Regions from separate parts of the Homo sapiens genome. Here region 1 is linked to region 2. The links come from fine-mapping of genetic effects on gene expression. Tissue or cell type: whole blood. Region 2 holds a variant in brackets; the other region holds the start of a gene. All regions are shown on one strand. Distances are from middle to middle.

Region 1 (8,342 bases), 25 kb before region 2:
TGCTAGATTGCCCAGGCTGGTCTTGAATTCCTGGCCTCCAAGGATCCTCCTGCCTCACAGCCTTCCAAAGTCCTGGGATTACAGATGTGAGCCATTGTGCCTGGCCCAGCCTAGCTTAATAATTTGTATGCTTCTTTGTTTTTAGGTGTCTGTTAGCACTTGTCATCCATGTATCTGCCCAGAAGAAGAATGCTTTCAAATATTTTGCTTTAACGCTGGAAACAAGATTTTTAAAAATCTTGTTAGAACTGTATATGTGTTTGATGTGAAGACAGCCTACATGAGAGGAGAGGGGACAGGTTTTTAGTTCTTGGATTCTATGATATCCTATTTTGGTTTCTCAGTAGCCTCTTCTCTGGCTCCTGTTTTCCTCCTCACCCCAATTCCTTCTTGCCTCTGTTTTTGACAGCTGAAGTGAATTCTAGACAGGAACTATCTCAAGGCTGCTGTTATTCAAAACCTAAGTGTTTCATATGAACATGAAGCTATTTAGTGGGAAAAATGAACTACAAGTAGTTTGATGGAAGAAGCAAGTATAAAAAAGCTTAGAGCTTTACACAGTAGTGATCAGAAGTAGCACTGTAAGTTGCTATAAACTACTGTATGTAATGAGACTTTAAGATCTTTTTTTGCCTAACAATTCCACATCTACATCTAGAAATATGTGATTACATAAAGATATGTATAAGAATGTTTTACAGTAGTATTGTTTAGTAAAAAACTGTAAACAACCTAACAGCTCATCAATAGGGAAATGGTTAAATACATTTTGTTGGTACTTATCATGCAGCCATTTAAAAAAAAAATGAGGCCAGGCACAGTGGCTCACGCCTGTAATCCCAACACTTTGGGAGGCCAAGGCAGGTGGATCATTTGAGGTCAGGAGTTTGAGACCAGCCTGGCCAACATGGTGAAACTCCATCTCTACTAAAAATACAAAAATTAGCTGGGCGTGGTGGTACATGCCTGTAATCCCAGCTACTCAGGAGGGTGAGGCAGGAGAATCGCTTGAACCCGGGAGGCGGAGGTTGCAGTGAACTGAGATCGTGCCACTGCACTCCAGCCTGGGGGACAGAGCGAGACTCCCTCTCAAAAAAAAAAAAAAAAAAAAGAGGTAGTTCTGTACATACTGATCCTAGTGATTAAGCAAGCTGACTCTGAATCCACACTGCCCAGGTTCAAATCCCAGCTCCACCACTTACTTTCCAGTTTGTGGCACATTAGATGTGTTCCTCAACCATCCAGTGCCATAAAAATCCCTATTTCATAAGATTGTTGTGGGGGTTAGATGAATTCATCCAAGTAAAACACTAGAATGGTGTCTGGCATAATTATTATTCCATTAGCCATTATTATCATTACTGATATGAAAGGACACCTGTAATACATTATTTGGTGAAAAGATAACGTTACATAATATGGGAAGTAGAGTTCCATTTTTGTCAAAACTAACAAAAATCTGTGTACACACATTCATGTGATTTGTACACGCAGAGAACCTGGAATTTCTTCATAGGAGGAACTAAGGATTTGTTAACTAGTCTTGCCTGGAGGTTAAAATTGCCTAACGGCCAGGCATGGTGGCTCACACCTGTAATCCCAGCACTTTGGGAGGCCGAGGTGGGTGGATCACCTGAGGTCAGGAGTTGGAGACCAGCCTGGCCAACATGGAGAAACCCCGTCTTTACTGAAAACACAAAATTAGCCGGACGTGGTGACGCATGCCTATAATCCCAGCTACTCGGGAGGCTGAGGCAGGGGAATCGCTTGAACCCAGGAGGCGGAGGTTGCGGTGAGCCGAGATCGCGCCATTGCACTCCAGCCTGGGCAACAAGAGCGAAACTCCGTTTCAAAAAATAAAATAAAATAAATAAATAAATGAATAAAAATAAAATAAAATAACAAACCCATTGTTTTTTACTCAGATTCTGTATTTATCTGGGGTGGCTTTGGAAGGATCCATTTGAAATTATGGGAAGTCAAATTTCCCCAAACCAGTCTTTGGTGCAGCTACTTTCTATAGTCACGGAAACAGTAAGGAAAGGTTGAATGCACCAAACTGTTAATAGGGATTATTTATGGGCATGAGTGGGATGAGGGGGGATGGTGGGTATGCAGTTGGGAGAAGACCTGTATACACCTCTCTATTGTTTGTAAGTAGTTCATTGTGTATTTATTTTGGAGGCAACATCAAATAAAAGAGGAGCATACATGAAAAAAGGGGTTGGTTAACTTAGTGTAGTATGAAGTTACAAACAAAAAAGGGTGATGGTAGTGCAGTGTTTTGAATTAACATGGAACAATGTGTGTGAAGGAATAATTGATCCAGAACTTTATTGTAGAAACCTGTCCCCATCAAAGCCATACATGGGGCTGTATATATATGTCCAGAGAAAAGGTCTTCTGCACACTTAACTGTAACTGTTAGTCATAATTTCTCTGCAGAGTGGGATGGTGGGGCTAGGAGGAAGGACTTTCACTTTTAATTTTATGATACTCCAAATCATTTGCATTTTTTTTTTACAAAAATTATGTATAATTTTTCTTTTTTTTTTCTTTTTGAGACGGAGTCTCGCTCTGTCCCCCAGGCTGGAGTGCAGTGGTGCGATCTCGGCTCACTGCAAGCTCCGCCTCCCGGGTTCAAGCGATTCTCCTACCTCAGCCTCCCGAGTAGTTGGGATTACAGGCGCGCGCCTCCACGCCCAGCTAATTTTTGTATTTTTTAATTAGAGACAGGGTTTCACCATGTTGGCCAGGCTGGTCTCGAACTCCTGACCTCGTGATCCACCCGCCTAAGCCTCCGAAAGAGCTGGGATTACAGGCGTGAGCCACCGCGCCCGGCCCAAGATCATGTATAATTTCTATAACAAAAACAATAAAGGAAATAAAAATGTCTTCAGTGTTGTACCTTGTACTTGGCCTATGTTACAACAGGAATGACATATATTCCATTTTTAAGACATTACTTAGGGCTTTATAGATTTCTGCTTTAAGGAATAAATGCAATTTCAATCTATTTAAGACTTGATTTCTTCTTATATAAAAAAAGTATCTGATCTTGTATCTAATTTGTTATGACAGTACCATCACTTAAAGTACAGCAATTATGCAACCCCTGAATTTGAATTTCATTTTGCAAGTGTACATGACCTCACGGACAAAGCGAAGGCAGAAAGTTAAAATCAGCATATCGAAAATAAATCACTCTAGTTACCGAAAAGAACATAGGGTATCTGAACAAAATCTCAGAGCTCACATAGGCATAGATACTTCCATGTGAACTTTAGGAATCTTGCCTTATCTAACTTTTGCAGGGCTGAGTGGACCCCCTGCTCCCGCTAGCCGTTTTGGGAGCACCAGCCACCTCCACACCAGAACTGGGCTGTCGGGGGCCGCTGCGGCGCAGGGGCTCGTCCGGGACTGAGTCAGCGCCGGGGCCGAGAAGTTCGGCGGGAGGCGCAGGGCGGGGCTTCCTCCCGCCGACTCCGAGCCCGGCTCTACTTTTCTGAGTCCACGTCTCTTCCTTTGGACAGGCGTGTTTCCCCAGGTCGGGCCCAGCCAACGTGACAGCCGCAGACCTCGGAAAAGGGCGCTCCGGCCCCGCCTCGAGGATTTCCCCCGGCCGCTAGGGCAGCCCGGGCCCGCTCGGCCCAGCCCCTCACGGACTGCGGCGCGCGGCTCCCCGGGGCCCGGCCCGCCGAACGCCTCGCTCTACAGCCCTCACCTCGCGGCGCCGAGCGCAGCGTCCGCGGCATGGAGACCGGCTCCGACTCAGGTCAGAGGCCCGCCCCCGGGCCGCGGGGGACTGGCCCTGCGCGCGCGGCGGCGCGGTTAGGCCGGGCCGCCCGCACAGGCCGCCGCGTGTCGAGTCCGCGCGGGGAGCGCACGCGGGGCGGGCGGCGACAGGTGGGCAGGACGAGCCGCGAGCGAGCGAGGGCGGGCGGGCGCGCGAGGGGCCCGGCGGGGGGGCCGCTGGGAGGATGGCTCAGCTCTTTCTAAATATAAAACCGGCGTGAGTTGGGCGAGCGCGGCGCGGAGTCGCAGAGCCGCCGCGCGGGCCTGGCGCACGGGGATTCGGCCGCACAGACGGCGGCGGCGGCAGCGGCAGCGGCTCCGCAGAGGCGCGAGGCTGCGGGAGCGCCCGAGTCGCGAGCTCGCGGGGGCAGCGAAGGGCGACGCTCGCGACGCGGAGGACGCAGGCGGCGGCGGCGGGCGGGCCTCGGGGCACAGCGCGGTCCGCGCCGAGTGAACGGAGGCGGCTCGCGGCCCCTGCCGCACCGCGAGCCGCGAGCCCCCCGGCCGCGCCCTGCCCCCCCAGCCCCTCCCTCGTTCCCTCCCCGGCGCAACATGGCTGCGGCCGCCGCCTCCGCCTCCCAGGATGAGCTGAGTAAGTGCCGCGGCCGAACCTGCGGCCGCGAGCCGGAACGGGCGCCGCGCGGTGCCGGGGGCCGGCGGCCGCATGAGGGCTGGGGCGCCAGGCCCGGTGGGCGGGCGGCGGCCGCGGCGTACGGGGAGCTGGGGAGCCCGGGCCTGGCGGACGGGCGGGGCGCGGACCGTCGCCGCTGGCGTTTGTAGGCCTCAGGTTTGCACCGTCACGTTGCGAAATTGAAACCGGAGCCCCGGGCGGAGCCACCTCTGCCCGCGATCCGCCCTGGCCCGGGGTCGGGGGAGCCCAGCCCCCTGCCCACTGAGCCTCGGCTGGCGGGAGGGCCGGAGCCCCGGGGTGACGGGCAGTGTCCGCCCGTCCCGTCTGACCCCGCCTGGCCCCGGGTCCCCGACGGCTGGTTGAGTTATAGAAATGGAGCTTTCGGGAAGGGGGAGAAGGTGCCTTTTTGTGACACTCTAGTAATCAGCCGAAAGGTCACGAATAGGCGGTGACCCTCAGATGGAGCAGGGAGGGCGGAGAGGGTCGCCGGTCGAACCGCAGGAGAAACCACGGGGTGACAGCGCTTTCAGAAAGGAGAGTTAGTGCCCCCTCGATCGTACGCGGTGCAGCCTTCCCGGGGACGGCGGTCCCTGTCTGGGGAGAGCGGTGGTCACCCTGAATCCCAGGCCGCCCCGCCCGCCGCCGGGGTTCGCCTCAATGCTTTGTGGGAAGTGTAGTTCCGGGGCGCCGCGGACCCACGCTGGGGTCATAAATACCGAAGTTTCATAGGACATAGGACATGTGAGATAATTTCTGATTGCGTTTTGAGTGTTCTCCCCCCCAAGGGTTTTCTTTCTTTCCCTTTTTTTTTTTCTCCCAATGCTGCCCTTCAGTTTATGGCAAAAACAAGAAAGGTGTTATTTGAAGATGATGTGGGTTTTAAATGGAATAAAGCATGGGTGAGGTGTTGCAAGCTTTATGAAGCTTACGTTGTTAAAGCCGCTTCTGAATTTCCATATGAAAGTAGTTATACACGTAATGTATGTTTTTCTGGTGCTTGTCAGTTTAAAGCCACTTTTATATACATGATCTCACTTTTGCCCTCATAGCAACCTTGTGAGGCAGATAGGTAGGAATTATCCTTGTTTTAAAGAGGAGGCAGGTTTGGAGAGATTAAGTTCCTTGCTGCTTTGACACAGAACTGGTGGAGCAGGAGTACTGTTTGCTTTTTTTGAAGCTGAAGTAAACACTTGGTGTGATCCTGAGCAGATTGGAGAGTCGGAGGAGACAAGGTCTCATGGTGCGATTAGAGAGAGAAGCGGGCTACAGATTGCTCTTCTGTCGGTTCCACGTGGAAGCACCACCAGGCCTTCTGAGATCAGTTCCATGTTTTGTTTTAATTGGAAGAAAAGTACACATACCATAAAATTTCCCGTCCTAGCCATTTTTTAAGTGTACAGTTCAGTGGGATTGAGTACATTCACACTGTTGTGTAATCATCACCACCATCCATTTCCAGAACTCTTCGTCTTGTAAAACGGAAACTTGATACCCATTAAACAACAAATCCTCATTCCCTCCTCCCTTCGGCCCCTGGCGACCATCATTGTACTTTCTGTCCCTGTGATTTTGAGTATTCTTCCTACCTCGTGTGAATGGAATCATACAGAATTTGTGACTGGTTTTATCTTTATTTAGCATAATGTCCTCAAGGTTCATCCATGTTGTTGCGTGTGTCAGAATTTCTTTTCCTTTTAAAGGTTGAATGATATTCCCTTGTATGTATATATCACATTTCCTTGTCCATCTATCTGTCTATGGACACTTGGGTTGCTTCCACATTTTAGCTATTGGGAATAATGCTGTTGTGAACATGGGTGTACAGATACCCCTTTGAGACCTTGCTTTCAGTTCTTTTGGGTACATACCCAGAAATGTAATTGCTGGATCATGTGATAGTTCTAGTTTTAAATTTTTAAGGAACCACTGTACTGTTTTCTTTTTTCTTTTTTTTTTCTTGAGACCAAGTCTTGCTCTGTCGCCCAGACTGGAGTGCAGTGGCGCGATCTCCGCTCACTGTAAGCTCCGCCTCCCAGGTTCACGCCATTCTTATGCCTCAGCCCTCCGAGTAGCTGGGACTGCAGGCGCCCGCCACCACGCCCGGCTAATTTTTTGTATTTTTAGTAGAGACGGGGTTTCACTGTGTTAGCCAAGATGGTCTTGATCTCCTGACCTTGTGATCTGCTGTGATCCACCCGCCTCGGCCTCCCAAAGTGCTGGGATTACAGGCGTGAGCCACCGCGCCCGGCCCCCACTGTACTGTTTTTGACAGTGGTTGTACCATTTTACATTACCACCAACAATACACAGAGTTCTAATTTCTCTATATCCTGGCCGACACTTATCTATATTGTCAGTAGTAACCATCCTGTTGGGTGTGAGGTGGTCTGATTTTTTTTCAATTGCTATGCTGTATGACATCTGAGTTCCTGTTGTAGAACCAAACACATTAAAGTCTGAATTGATAGCAGGAATGGGAACAAAACTAGAGGAAGAATTGGATATTCTGAAGTGGCTGAAGTATTTGTGTCTATGCAGTGTGCTTCCATACATTCAGGTACTGGTTAAGATGCTGATAGTTAAGGGATTTCCTGGCTCTAGTACCTAATGGAAAGTTAGGAACAAATAATTCCAATCCTTGCCTTCTTCTTGTTTTGTTCAGTTAAATTGTCAGTCATCAGCCACAGATATCGGTGGACTTGGTTTCTGTATTTCTTCAGGAGAGACTGAATACGTTGCAGTTGATACCTTAGAATAATTTAACTTGAAAGCATATACATGTACACTGGTTAAGAAGTTTCATATAAACCACTTTTAGTTTTAGAATGGGTATAATAAAATAGCAGATGCTGATAAAATGTGCTTTTGGCCAGGTGTGGTGGCTCACACCTGTAATCCTAGCACTTTAGGAGGCCGAGATGGGTGGATCACCTGAGGTCAGGAGTTCAAGACCAGGCTGGCCAACATGGTGAAACCCTGTCTCTACTAAAAATACAAAATTTAGCCTGGTGTGGCGGCACGTGCCTGTAGTCCCAGGTACTCAGGAGGCTGAGGCAGGAGAATCACTTGAACCTGTGAGGTGGAAGTTCCAGTGAGCCAAGATTGTGCCGCTGCACTCCAGCCTGGGCAACAGAGCTAGACTCTGTCTCAAAAAAAAAAAAAAAAAAAAAAAGAAAAGGTGCTTTTAAGAATTCCACTAAAAAAAAAGGAGAGAATTATCCAAATATTTTCTATCATTTATGACTAGTAGATGATAGTAAAAGCAAACTACTAGATGCCAGCATTGTTCTCTTCCACTAACATTTTATTGTAAAAAATCTTCAAACACACAGAAAAGTTGAAAGTGAACATTCGTGTACCCACCACTTAGATTCTATCATTGATAGTCAAATAACTTTATCATATTTACTATTATAGCAAACTTTGTCATTTGTCCATCTCAGTAGATTTTTAAAAATTGTTAAAGTTTTTTTTTTTTTTTTTTGAGACGGAGTTTCAGTCTGTCACCCAGGCTGGTGTGCAGTGGCGCGCGATCTCGGCTCACTGCAACCTTTGCCGCCTGGGTTTAAGCAATTCTCCTGCCTTAGCCTCCTGAGTAACTGGGATTACAGGCACCTGTCACTGCGCCCAGCTAATTTTTGCATTTTTAGTAGAGACGAGGTTTCACCATCTTGGCCAGGTTGGTCTTGAACTCCTGACCTCGTGATCCCCCCACCTCAGCCTCCCACAGTGCTGGGATTACAGGCGTGAGCCACCATGCTTGGCCAATTGTTAAACTTTTTTAGTTTTACTTTATTTTTTAAAAAATAGTAGTAAAATACACATAACATAAAATTTACCACCTTAACAATTTTTTTTGTTGTCTTTTTCTGGAGACGGAGTCTTGCTCTGTCGCCCAGGCTGGAGTGGAATGGCG
Region 2 (8,342 bases):
AATTAGCCAGGTGTGGTGGCGCATGCCTGTAATCCCAGCTATTTGGGAGGCTGAGGCAGGAGAATCGCTTGAACCTGGGAGGCAGAAGTTGCAGTGAGCCGAGATTGCACCACTGCACTCCAGCCTTGGTGACAGAGTGAAACTCTGTCTCAAAAAAAAAAAAAAAAAAAAAATTCCATGAATGTTGTGCTTCTCCATTAATTTAGATCTTATGAATTATAGTTAGGATTATAATTTTCTCTGTAAAGGACTATGACATGTTTCATTAGATTTATTTCCAGATAACTTGTAGTTTTATTGCCATTGTTAATTATATGTTTTTAAAAACTACATTGATACTTTGTTCTCATTTATCTCAGTTGACTTCTGTACTCTGATCTTGTATGCAACATAATTAACTTTCTTATTTTACATACCCTATCCCATAAATATCATGTAATCTGTGAATACTGACAGTTTTTAGTATCTCCTACTTCCATATTGCATTTTCTAGCAGTTCCAGTTCAATTTGCTTGGAAGTGATGATAGTGCACATCTTGTTTCTGATTTTGTATGAGATATATTTGCTGTAGATTTTACATAGATGCTTTTTGTCAGATTATGAAAGTTTCTTTCAGTGACGGTTATTTCCAGCTCCACAGTTATAAACTACTCTTTGGGACAGATTCTGCTAATCATATTTTTCAGACTCCCTTACCATCTAGCTTCTTGTTTTAAGATATCTTTTCCTATCTCGAGGTAATGAGAATATTCTTTATTTCTCTAGAAACTTTATTGTTTTACCTTTGACATTTAGATTTATGATCCATCTGGAATTGATTTTCTTTTTGTTTGATGATATGGTTTGGCTCTGTGTCCCCGTCCAAATCTCATCTTGTAGCTCCCATAATTCCCATGTGCTGTGGGAGGGATGCAGTGGGAGATGATTGAATCATGGGAGTGAGTCTTTCCCATGCTGTTCTCGTGATAGCGAGTGGGTCTTAGGAGATCTGATGGTTTCAGAAACGGGAGTTTGCCTGTACAAGCTGTCCCTTTGCCTGCTGCCATCCATGTTAAGATGTGACTTGCTCCTCCTTGCCTTCTGCCATGATTGAAAGGCTTCCCTATCCACATGGAACTGTAGTTCTCCATTAAACCTCTTTCCTTTGTGAATTCTCTAGTCTTGGATATGTCTTTATCAGCATCATGAAAACGGACTAATAGATATGGTGTGAGGTAGGGATTAAATATTGTTCTCCCATATTGGAATACAGTTGATTTAACACCATTTATTGAAAAGACCATCATTTACTCACTACATTGCAGTGACACCTCTGTTTAAACCAGGTGACTATATACCTGTTTGTCTTTTACACATTTTCTATTTTGTTCAAGTGGTCTACTTATTTTTTGTTAGCATAGTATACTTTTAATTACTGTAGTTTTTATTTTATGTGTTTATTTTTTTGAGACAAGGTCTTGCTCTTTTGCTCAGGCTGGAGTGCAGTGGCATGATCTTGGCTCACTGCAACCTCTACCTCCTGGGCTCAAGCAGTTCTCCCACCTAAGCCTCTCAAGTAGCAGGGACTACAGGTGCACGCCACCACGCCCAGCTAAATTTTTTTTTTTTTTTTTGGTAGAGATGGGGTTTCACCATGTTGCCCAGGCTGGTCTCAAACTCCTGAGCTCAAGCAATCAGCCTGCCTTGCCCTCCCACAGTGCTGGGATTACAGGGCTGAGCCACTGTGCCCAGCCTACTGTAGTTAGCCTTGAAATTTGACCAAAGTCTTCTAGCTGTTTTTCCTCTTCAAGATAGTTTTGGCAAATCTTGGTCCTTTGCATTTCTTTAAATTATAGAAAGAATCAACTTTTTTTTTTCTTCTAGTGGTATCCACACATTTAAAGATTATTCATCCACTCATTCATTGATTGAGATAGTTAGTATCTTCCTGTGTTGCCCAGGCTGGCCTGGAACCACTATAGGCTCGAGCCACTGTGCCTGGCTCTAGGATCAGCTTTTTAGTGTTACCCAAGTTATCTGATGGATTGTGCTTGGATTATATTGTCTATAGGTCAATTTGGGGAGAATTGACATCTTATTAATATTTTCTAATCTGTGAATATGGTGTATCTTTTAAGTTTTCCTTAATTTCTTGTAGCGGTGTATTTTAGTTTTCTGTGTAGAGGTCTTACACATTTTTCCCTAGATTAATTCCCAGCTATTCGATGTGTTTTGATGTCATTGTAATAGGTGTTTTCAAATTTTGTTTTCTAATGGTTTATTACTATTATATAGGAAACCAATTGATTTGTGTATTTTGTTATTCTATTAATTTTTCCATAGATTGTTTTGGATTTTTTGTGTACCAATCATTATCTTTAAATAATGAAAATATTATTTCTTCCTTTGTAATCTTAATGCATTTTATTTTTCTTTGTCTTATTGCTCTGAATAAAATTTGCAGTACAAATTTGAATAGAATTGGTAATAGTGAACATCTTTACCTTGTTCCTGAACTCAGAGGAAAAGTGTTTGGTATTTTACCTTTAGATATAATGTTTGCTGTAAGTTTTTATAAAAATCTCTTATCAGATTAAGGAAGTTCTCTTTTCTTCCTTGTCTCTTCAACATGAATAGTTTGTTCCCATCTATTTAGCATGAAGAGATGTTGAATTTGATCAAATGCCTTTTCTGTATATATTGAGATGATCATATGATTGTTATTCTCTATTGTGTTAATGTGGCAGATTACACTGATTTTCAATATTAAACCAACTTTGCATCTTTGGAATAAATCCAATTTTTGTATGATGTATTATCCTTTTTATGTATCGCTGGATTTGACTCATATTTTTTACTTATTTTATGTATTATGATTTAAATATTATTTTATTATCTCATTTGCGTCTATATTCATGAGAAATATCTTTTATTTGCTTTTATCTTTCTGGGGATACCCTTGTTTGGTATCAAGGTTATTCTGGCCTCTTAACATTCAGGGATGTGTTCCCCTGCCATCCCTTTACCCCACCTTTTTCTCTTCTCTGGAAGAAGTTATGAAGGAGAATTTACCAGCGAATTCATAAGGTCCTGCCATTTTTTTGTGTGGGGAGGTTTTTAAATAATACAGTTCATATTTGTGGTAATTTAGAATGAACCAGTTTTTTAAAGCAGAATTTATAATTGTGAGTTGTATCATTGTGGTCTGTCTTTAGAAGTAATTAAAAAAGCCCCTTAAAATCATGTAATTATGACTTTGTACTAAGTTATGCCTCCGTATGATGAGCTCTTGTGTCTCTGAGGTATTGTCACATGGGATTTTTAGCTTTCTGGCCTGGCTCAGTTTTCCTTTGGTGGTAGTAAATGGGGTTATTAACATACCTAGCATAGGATTCCTACTCTAGGTGGGATTCTACTAATAATTCATATTTTGCTCCCAGCTGATGGAATGTGTGTTCTCAAATATTTCGTAGACTTCTGATTTATTAAAATACTTATTTTTGTAGTAGTAGTCAGCTTTATTTAAAAAGGAGGTAAAATTAGCCAAATATGATGGCTCATACCTGTAATTCCAGCACTTTGGGAGTTTGAGGCAGGAGGATCGCTTGAGGCCAGGAGTTCACAAGCAGCCTGGGCAACATAGACCTCATTTCTACAAAAAATACAAAAAAGAAAAAGATAATAATTTCTTCTTGCCACTGAGCTTAAGGGGAAAAAAAAAGAAAAAGGTAAAATTAAAGGAATAATGTATTCTGAGAGATAATTATATACAATATTTATATAACATATGGAAAATATTTTATATCATATATAATTACTCTGCCAAACCTAACCAGTTAAGGGCATAGCCCTCCACTAGACTGAATCGACTTCATATGCCACCTACAAGTTCCTGTTATCCCAGAGCCACCCTCACTTTTGACCTATTGGATACAGATTTGGGGGTCTCCATGGACCCCCTCAGGTTTAATCATTAGCTAGAACGAGTCAGAACTCAGGAAAGCCGTGTATTTATGGTTATGGTTTTATAGAAAAGGATGCAAGTTAAAACCAGCCAAAGGGAGAGACATGTAGGGCAAGGCCTGAGAGGGTTCCAGATGCAAAGCTTGTGTTGTGTCAGGGTACTTTCCCAGTATAGCAATGTGTGATAATACACACAATGCACTGCTGATCATAGAAGCTCACCGGCTCACCTGAACTTTGGTGTCCAGGGTTTTATTGACCAGGTGTGATTGATTGATTGGATCATTGCCCATGTGACTCAATTTCTAACACCCCCCCCACCCTCCTCTCCCTCTCCAACCCTTCCCCTTGTCCACCTCCCCTAATCACCTGGCTGAAAACCTGCAAGATGATTAGTCTTTCTAGTGTGATCAACCCCCATCCTGAGTTATCTCTTAGCGTAAACAATCTGGGGCCCACTATGAGTTACTTCCTCAGTGTAAGTTATCAAATGTGATTAGAGGGTCCCACCATGAATAACAAAGGCACTTCAGTTACTGGGGAAATCCCAAGGGTTTAGTGCTTTCCTCTCAGGAACATGGACAGAGGTCACCTAAATTCTTTATTACACAAGAATATAAAAGCTACATCTGTAATATGATAGCC[G/A]TATATAACATTATATAATGTTTCACAACATTCTTATGAAGCAATCTTATGCTGTTCCTAATAGACAAGTTCATTAATAACCTTAGAGAGGTTTAGTTTACTAACTAAAACCAGTAATGTATCTGACATGAAAATATAGGTCCGTTGGCTCCTTTATATCTTAGACTCTCGGAGAGAATCATTAGTTGGGCTTTCACAAGTCTATATTAATAATGTATAGTTTATAAATAATAGCCCATTTAGAATTGTCCCCATAATATATGCAAAGGAGGAATTTTATACTTTTTTAATGTGTGTTTCTCATGTGTGTATGTATATGCACACAAAATCTAGATACTTCTTTTAGCAGAAATTCTCCTTAGTTGGTTGATGTGAAATAAAGGATATTTTCCTAAATCACATTTATAACTGAAGGTTTGGAAAACGTTGTCTGTATATGTTTGTATTTTTTCAGTGATTAGACACTGATATAAATGCTATAGGGGTAGGGGGAAGAAAGGATAGGAGATTTATTTTTTATTTGTTTGACTGTGTGGATTAATGCTGCTGTAAATTTATATTCACTAACCTCAATTGGGTCCTTTACACTTTCTTCACATTTGTAGTTCATTTTACCAGTCAATTTTCTTCTCTTCTTCACTCTGGGGCAAGCCTTTTCCTACCATTGTCACGCTGCCCACTTGCCCTCTGCTCTCCAAATCTCAGAAGAAGACTGTGCCTTCTATTTTACAGAAATAATAGAAACCATCAGAAGGGAATTCTTTCAGGCCCTTCCATAAAATTTATAAGATTGATTTTATCAACAGCAGTCTTCCTGTTTCCCTCCTGTTACAATGGCAGAGATGGCCTTCCTGTCCTATCTAAGGTAATTCCTCAGACCTTGTGCTGAATCCTAATCTCTCCCATATTCTCAGGGTCACAGTCTAATAATTTTTTCCCTCTTCAGTTTCTTTCTCTCTAGTGGCTTTTTCCTTTTGCTATTTAAATGTGCTCAGAGCTCTTATTTGATTGAAATAATGAAAAATAACTGTTCCCCTCCCCTTTCATAACTAAAAGTTTCTAAAGAGTTGTCATTTACTGTATTCCTCACATCCTTTTTAATCTTCCACTGATTCCTCTACCCTGTACAGTCTGCTTTTTTCTCTACCACTTCATTGAAACTGCTTGAGCCAAGGTCAGGTGTGAACTCTATTGCTGAATTAACTGGATTCTTTTCAATTCTTATCTTGCATGATCTTTTTGCATCATTTGAAATGGTTGACTGCTGTCTCCTAGGAAAATCTTTCTTAATTATTCTGACCCCACGTTTTCTTTTTATTTTTGTCTGTTGCCTACCATTCCCTTTTTCAGACTTTCCTTCTCCTGCATTTAAATGCTGTTGTTCGCAAACAGTCTGTCCTAGGCCTTCTGTTATTTTCTTTCTACATGCAGTTATCATATACTTGTGAGGTAAGCCTGGACAACATCCATGCCTCTTCCCTCTCCACTCTTTTTACCCATGACCACCAAGCTCTTACGCATGGTAGAGTTTCAGTAGATACTTGAATGAGTGACCTAGATAGGAGAATGAGTGCTTGACTGTGAAACTGGGAGGGTGCTGGGCCTTGAAGGAGGAGAGAATTTTGATGAGCAGGAAGGAGGAGGAGAAAGGTTGAACTGCAGCTGGTCACATATGGAGTTAGCTTCTTATTCATAGTAGTGAGTTCCCTCTAGTGTTGTTTTCTGACCTTTGAATTTGTATGTTTTTCCATTTTTGTAATAAATACTGCCTGAATGAGACACATTCTAGTGAACGTTTGGATATTCTTTCAAATAAAACTTCCTGTATAAGGTGTAGTATGTACAGTATGTGTACCTGATAGAAAATAGGGTCATTCTTGGAGACAGTTGTATGGTATAGGCAAGGATTTTTAGACTAAAGGTCAGAAGACTCCATTCTTATTCTTACTCTGCTGCTAATTAATCTGTGACCTTGGGCAAGTCCTTAAAACTCACTGTGCTTTTTTACGTTATATAATCTTTCAGTCTTCTTCAGTTCTGTTTTCAGTCCAGTACAAATCTTTCTTTATGCAGGCTTCAAAATTAATTTTCTTCTTGACTTGGGGGGTAGTCACAAGATTGTTTATAATAATTCATTAAACCATGCATTTATGTTTTGAATGATTTTCTGTATGTATTATTACATAGTTAAGAAGATTTTAAAAACCCACCAAAGACTTGTTTCCTACATCCCTCCATATACCAAAAGAAAATTCCAGATGGATCAAAGACTTGAATGCAGAAAGCAAAATCATAAGTGTACTTGAAAGAAAACATAGGTAAATATACCTGCCAGGAGACTCCCAGTTCGCCCCTAGCTTCAGTGATTGTCTAGTAGGACTCACAGGATTCAGCATATATTTGTACTCCCAGCTAAGATTTAGTGTAGCAAGGTCACCAAAGGGAAAAGTCATGTGAGTGAAATCTGGAGGAAACCAGGTGCAAGCTTCCAAGAATCTTCTGGTGGAGTCACACAGCACATACTTGATTCCTCCAGAAGTGAGTTGTGACAGCACCTCTGAAATGGTATCCACCAGAGATGGTCATCAGAGACTCAGTGCCTCAGGTTTTTATTTGGGGCTGGTCATGTTGGTACCTTCTTCCTAAAATGTACCAAAATTCCGCCCTGAAGGGAAGCTGATGTTCAGCATAAACAATATTATTTGCACAGACAGGCACAATGAACCACTCTTAGCAGTTCTGGGAATGGTGGGAACCCTGCTGAAATCCAGGTTTCCAGATATCAGCCATGGGCCAGCCTCAGCTAGAAAGCACATCTTTCTTTCTTTCTTTCTTTTTCTGAGACAGAGTCTCGCTTTATTGCCCAGACTGGAGTGCAGTGGCACGATATCTGCTCACTGCGAGCTCCGCTCCCTGGGTTCATGCCATTCTCCTGCCTCAGCTTCCTGAGTAGCTGGGACTACAGGCACCCGCCACCACGCCCGGCTAATTTTTTGAAATTTTAGTAGAGATGGGGTTTCACCGTGTTCGCCAGGATAGTCTCTATCTCCTGACCTCATGATCTGCCCTCCTTGGCCTCCCAAAGTGCTGGGATTACAGGCGTGAACCATGTGCCAGGCCGAAAGCAAGTGTTTCTACAGGTAGCAGTCCTGGGTCTGTGTAAACTCTTCTCTGCACAATATAATATTTAAAAGTATTTTGCAGTGAAAATGACTTTTCTAAGCATGCCTAGAAACTCCGAAGTCATATAGGGAAGGAATGGTAAGTTTAACTATACTCAAAAGACTTAGGCCGGGTGCAGTGGCTCATACTTGTAATCCCAGCACTTTGGGAGGCCAAAGTATGAGGATCGCTTGAGGCCAGGAATTCAAGACCAGCCTCTGTCTTGAGGCCAGGAATTCAAGACCAGGAATTCAAGACCAGAGACCTCTGTCTCTACAAAAAATAAAAAAATCAGCTGGGTGTGGTGGCGTATGCCTGTAGTCCAAGCTACTTGGGAGGCTGAAGTAGGAGAATAGCCCAGGAGGTTGAGGCTGCAGTGAGCTGTGGATAGCGCCACTGCACTCTAGCCTGGGTGTCAGCAAGACCCTGTCTTATTTAAAAAAAAAAAAAAAGGAAAAGAAAAATATAGCAGTTATATCTGTAGATGTTGACCTTTCTTCTTTTTTGTGAAACTTGAACAAGCTTATCTTTTATTTAAGTATAGATGGGTCTGTAAAGATGACGTAACAGTGTTAGATTGATTCACCTCAAA

The links. PIP is the estimated chance that this variant, and not a neighbour inherited with it, causes the effect.
Region 1: ECPAS starts here. The variant in region 2 is fine-mapped to the expression of ECPAS in whole blood (TOPMed, PIP above 0.99). The same link has a PIP of 0.9 or more in CD4 T cells, T cells, blood mononuclear cells and naive CD4 T cells.

What each region holds. Positions count from the first base shown.
Region 1 is chr9:111,479,549-111,487,890 of GRCh38, reverse strand. It overlaps ECPAS (Ecm29 proteasome adaptor and scaffold), which reads left to right and starts at 3,508. Exons shown (of 50, transcript NM_001364929.1): 1 at 3,508-3,775. RefSeq lists silencers at 3,409-3,948, 4,069-4,188, 4,459-4,878.
Region 2 is chr9:111,454,570-111,462,911 of GRCh38, reverse strand. The region is part of intron 2 of ECPAS (Ecm29 proteasome adaptor and scaffold); the gene reads left to right. Among named protein-coding and RNA genes, the nearest start is that of ECPAS, 26 kb to the left of the region's middle. The variant G/A (reference allele first, on the strand shown) is at 4,589.